Regions from separate parts of the Homo sapiens genome. Here region 2 is linked to region 1. A link means that fine-mapping ties the variant in region 1 to the expression of a gene that starts in the linked region. Tissue or cell type: skeletal muscle. Region 1 holds a variant in brackets; the other region holds the start of a gene. All regions are shown on one strand. Distances are from middle to middle.

What was found. PIP is the estimated chance that this variant, and not a neighbour inherited with it, causes the effect.
Region 2: it holds the start of CACNG4, and the variant in region 1 is fine-mapped to the expression of CACNG4 in skeletal muscle (GTEx, PIP above 0.99).

What each region holds. Positions count from the first base shown.
Region 1 is chr17:67,043,140-67,045,979 of GRCh38, forward strand. It overlaps CACNG1 (calcium voltage-gated channel auxiliary subunit gamma 1), which reads left to right and starts at 1,415. Exons shown (of 4, transcript NM_000727.4): 1 at 1,415-1,750. The coding sequence starts at 1,522. The variant T/A (reference allele first, on the strand shown) is at 1,168.
Region 2 is chr17:66,963,363-66,966,032 of GRCh38, forward strand. It overlaps CACNG4 (calcium voltage-gated channel auxiliary subunit gamma 4), which reads left to right and starts at 1,345. Exons shown (of 4, transcript NM_014405.4): 1 at 1,345-1,769. The coding sequence starts at 1,550.

The sequences.
Region 1 (2,840 bases):
TTCCATGTCCTTGTCTGTGAAATGGCAGTAACCGTTGTAGTCCCCTTGTGGATTGGTGTGAAGAGTAACTGTGACAATGGATGAAGGCTTAGCAGGGTACCTGGTAGATAGTAAGCACTCACTGAAGATGAGCCACTGTTCTGATTATCATCATCATGAACTTTCTGTGATTCTAAGGCTGGAGGCCGAAACATTTCTGTCCACATGGGCAGAGTCTCTGTAAATCGTGTCAATCTGAGGCCAGGATTTTGAAGCTCAAGGCCCCACCCAGCTCAGGAGGCTATTCCTGGTCATGCGTCAGCCTCTCGGCTACACCCAAAAAGGGCCACCCTGTGAGCCGAGAAGGAAGAGATGACACAACCCAGGAGAGATGTAGAGGCTGGAGCCTCGGAGACCAGCCTGGGGGCCAGGCGGGTGCACAGGACCGTCGGAGGGTGGTCGATCCCGGGCTTTCTGTGTTCTCTGCACGCCCATGAGCTCCTAATGATCCCCTATAAATCAACCTATTCATTCTTTTTTACTCACACACTTATTTTTCAAATTCAAACATAACTGGAAAGTCGTTATCACCTGCTGTTAATAGAAGGCAAAACCAAACAGTGCCCTGAAAAACAGAATGACCAAGTCCAGCAGGATTCCTCGTCCTCTTCGGGCCGTTCTCGCTTTGTTTCAAAGGACACTTTACAGGCAATAATGACACTGACCTCGAACAGAGCTTTGCTCTGGACCCAGTTTTGGGGATGGAAAGAGAATTGAAAAGGAAGTAATGTTCTCGTGGAGGGATCAGAGTTGGGTAAGGCCAGACCTGGGAACCACCTAAAACCTTCCTATGGTTTGGGGGATGCCGTGGGGTTTGTGGCTAAAACGCTTGCCTAAGAGGTGGACTCCACAGGCCCTGGACTGGGTTCCCGGGATGTCATTAGACAGAATCCTAGCCCCTCAGATCCCAGGATGAGAACCTACTCACTGCCCTGCCGGTAACAGGCTTACCCCGTGGGAGCCCGGGACAGCCGTGCAGCCCGCAGCTCCTGGTCTCCTCCCCTGGCCTGGGCTGCCCTTTCCCATCAGCCCAGAGCAGGCAGATCCCCACCCCCGGGGCCCTGCTGCCCACCTCTCGCCCTCTCCCAACTCAGGCACCCTGAGCTGCTACTCACAGAGGCCTCAATC[T/A]ACCATCCAGAGCCTTCTCTCCTTGCCACCCTGCCCCGCCGCACTGGGGTATTTCTGGCTCCCAGAGGGGCAGAAAACCCTGAAACCCGAGCAGAAGCTGTCCTCGGTGCCACGCCTGGAGATGGGCATTAATAGCAGCCTCCCTCAGGCCCCTGACGCGTCTGGGCAGCTGCTCAGCACGTCCCGCGTCCCTCGGCCCCAAGGCCAGCCCACTCTGGCTCAGCCAGGCACACTAAACTTAGTGGCCACTCCCAGCTCGACAACCACTGCCACCCCCCAAGCTCGGCTTGTCACCTGCCCTAGGAGACGCAGCCGCCGGACCCTGCCCAGGGCACCCACGCCTCGGCGACCACCATGTCCCAGACCAAAATGCTGAAGGTCCGCGTGACCCTCTTCTGCATCCTGGCAGGCATCGTGCTGGCCATGACAGCCGTGGTAACCGACCACTGGGCTGTGCTGAGCCCCCACATGGAGCACCACAACACTACCTGCGAGGCGGCCCACTTCGGCCTCTGGCGGATTTGTACCAAGCGCATCCCCATGGACGACAGCAAGACCTGCGGGCCCATCACCCTGCCCGGGGGTAACGTACCCACCCTCCGTCCCGATCCCCACCTCCTGCTCTTCCCCGTCATCCCCCTGGCAAAGTTGCCCTTGCGAAGGAAGGCAGGTTTCTCTGCCTAGAAATAGGGCAGCCGCCCAGCCTTTTCTGCCCAGGGAAGAAGATATGAATTGCATGTGTGGTGCTGGTGGCTGGGGCTGGGTTGTAAGACGAGGGCGTTTGTCCCAGCTATTTCTGTCTGGCTGGACCTTGGGGCTTTTTGCCCAGAGCAGAGAGCTGGGCAGGCTCAAGAAAGGAACTGCAGCTCTACCAGCCCAGGGACTTCTGGGCCCCACCTGCTCACTCTCTCCCTGCAAAGAAAAGCTAGGTGGCTCTGTGTCCTCAGGCTAGGGGGACCCATGGGGCTGGCAGGTTTGTTCCTGGCCTCAAGGCAGGAGAGGAGAGAGCATAGGCGATGGAATTTGCAGGGTCCTGTGCAGAATGAAAATGCAGGGTTCCTTGCTCCAAATTACCAAGGATTTCAAGGCAGTGACAGCAGCACATGAAACCACACATGGGCCCTTGTGGGCTCTGGGCCTGGAGCAGCTGCACAGGTTGAATGTCTGTGAAGCAGGACATGGCTGTAGGCTGTAGGTGAGCCACCTGCCCCCACCTTCTTTTTTTTTTTTTTTTTTTTTTTGAGACAACTTTGTCGCTCAGGCTGGAGTGCAGTGGCATGATCTTGGCTCCCTGCAACTTCTGCCTCCTGGACTCAAGCGATTCTCCTGCCTCAGCTTCCCCAGTAGCTGGGATTACAGGCATGCACCACCACACCCATCTAATTTTTGTACTTTCAGTAGAGACGGGGTTTCACCATGTTGGTCAGGCTGGTCTCGAACTCCTGACCTCAGGTGATCCACCTGCCTTGGCCTCCCAGAGTGCTGGGATTACAGACGTGAGCCACCATGCCCGACCTCCACCTGTCCTTTTGTCAGGACTTCAGTCCTCTATGCATCCTGTCTTAGCTCAGACCCTGTCAGAGTTACAAAGCATTTCCTCACCCTGTAATTTAAGCGTATTCCTCGATTTCCTACCGTGTGACCGAACCACACGTTGAAGGTAAGGTCCTTTT
Region 2 (2,670 bases), 80 kb before region 1:
AGGCTCACAATCTTGTGGGACAGAGAACAGTGATTTCAACACGGGGAGTGGGGACCAGGGAAGGTGCCACAAAGAAAGTTAAGCTTCGTCTTGCAAGAATAGCAGCACTCCCTATACCTTTTTCCATATCCTGGGGTCCAGTGCAGCCAGGGATGCCAACAACAGGACCACCTGGACATGTCAAAGGGTGCTGCACCTCCTGATGCTGGGCTCTGAGAACCTCCTGGAGGGAGGGGTTTGGAGCTGGGTCTGGAAGGAGGAGTCCGGACCGGCTCCCTGGAGAAGGGAGTGTGTCCAGGTTGGGATCACGGCCAGCAGCAAAGGCAATTAAGTGAAGCCAGCAGGGGTTGGGGTCAGAGGCTGACAATAAAGGCCAGGGGAGGGAAAGCCGGTTAAGCTCGAGCAGAGCAAAAGGCAAAACGAAATAAAGGCATTGCGAAAGGTTGGGAGAGAAAGGGAAAAGGCTGGCGGGTGGAGTGTTGGAATCTAACACAACTGGAGTGTCCCTGGACTCTAGCAGTAATAGACCCTCAGAAATGTGAGCACAGAGGAACGCCCCATCTTCAATCTCAGCCTTGCCACCACTCTAGAAAGCAGAGACCCTGTGTTCTCCCCAAAGGACTTCTCGCTGTCATCGCCCTTCTCCCTCAACCCCAAGTCAGGGTCCTTCCAGGCCCTGCAAGGGGATCTGGAGGAGCAGGAACCACCTGGGTTGGGGTGGGGCCTGGCCCGGGCCTGGCGTGGCTTGCAGGGTCTGGCAGCTGTGTCCCACATCTGGGGTTTCAGGAATTCTGACCTGAACACGCACTCCCACACTCACCTTCATCACCAGGTGAACAGGCACAGAGGGGAAAGGAGGGACACACCCACCCACGCCCTCCTCCACAAATTAAAGAATCCGCAGGGCCGTCGGAGGGGAGGCTGGATGTCCTGGGCGGGTAAGAGAGGTGGCTGGAGACGCGCTTTCCCTTCGGTCCTCCTGGGGAACACTTCCCTCGGCTTCCTTCACTCCAATAATGTGAATGAACTCTGGGAGAGAGAGAGAGCGCGCGCGGGCGCGGGGAGGGGAGGGGAAGGGAGGGGAGGGGAGGCGAGGGGAAGGGAGGCGAGGGGGAGAAAATCCTGGCTGGGGAGAGAGGGGAGCTCAGAGGAGCGCACAGCCGGGCGGGGGCCGAGGCTCGAGGGGCGGCGCCGAGAGAAACGGGGCGCGGACCCGGAGCGCGGCGGCGGCGGGGGAGGCGCGGAGGGCGCAGGGCGGAGGCGCGGGCCGAGGGGGGAGGGCGAGCGGAGAGGGAGGAGCCCCCGGCCGCCGCCGCCAGCCCGCCCGGCGGCCGCGCAGCCCGCACTCGTCGCCGCGCCTCGGAGTTTGAGCCCCAGCGCTGCCGGAGCGCAGGCACGCCCGGGGCGCGGGGTCGGAGCGCGCAGCGCGGCGCCGCCCCCCGGCCCTCGGCCCCCCAACCCCGGCGCCCCCGGAGCGGCGCGCGGAGGGAGGAGGGCGGGCGGGCGCGGCGGGCCGGGCCGGCGGGCGGCGGACTATGAGGCGCCCACCATGGTGCGATGCGACCGCGGGCTGCAGATGCTGCTGACCACGGCCGGAGCCTTCGCCGCCTTCTCGCTCATGGCCATCGCCATCGGCACCGACTACTGGCTGTACTCCAGCGCGCACATCTGCAACGGCACCAACCTGACCATGGACGACGGGCCCCCGCCCCGCCGCGCCCGCGGCGACCTCACCCACTCTGGTCTGTGGCGGGTGTGCTGCATCGAAGGTACGGCCAGCCCCGACCCCTCGCCGCCCCACACACACACACACACACACACACATATACACACGCGCGCGCGCGCGCGCGCACACACACACACGCGCACACACTGCCCGGCGCGCGGGCCGGGGAGAGGGTGGGCGCGGCGCTGGCTCCGCGCGAGACACAAAGGAGCCGGAGCTGGCGGGCGGGTCCCTTCGCGGCCAGCTGTACATCAGCTCTGGTCCCTCTCGGCTGGGGACCTCCCCAGCACACCGATCCCACAAACTCTCCACGCGCACACCCCCTCGCCCACAGACACAATGAAACACACCGAAACTCAAGCACGCGCGCGTAGCCCGGGACCCGAGCGATCCCCAGGGGCCGCGCCGGCACCCCCGGGGGAGGTGGAGGCTGGCGAGGGGGCGGGAGGAGGCTGGGGTTGGGGGGAGCGGACGGGAGGGGGGGAGGGGTTGCTTGGCAACCGGTGTCTGTGCTATTGCTATGGGAACTGGCCATCCTGGGGCGGGGCCGGCCGGGGGCGGGGCGCGTCGGTGCCGCTGGGCGCTTTCTACAGGCTCGGGCTGAGGGGTGGGGGCAGAAGTAGGGGCAGAAGTAGGGGCGGGGGCGCGGTCGGAGCCGGGGTAGGGGCTGAGTTCCTAGCGGATCTAGGGTAGCTGGGTAGGCCCAGCCCGACGCCCGCCTCGTCTCCCACGGAGTCACCGGCCCGCTCCTCGCTGTGCGGTGGGGTGGTAAGGGGAGCGACACCGAGTCTCCCCCAACGGAGACAGCGACCTCGGTCGCGGCCCCTCAGCAGGGAGGCTGCGGAGACCTCAGTAGGAAACTAGGGTGTGCAGGACCGATCTGCGGACCGGGAACAGACTGGGAGGGGCGTGGTCATCTCGTCGGAGCTGGGCGCTGCGACCCC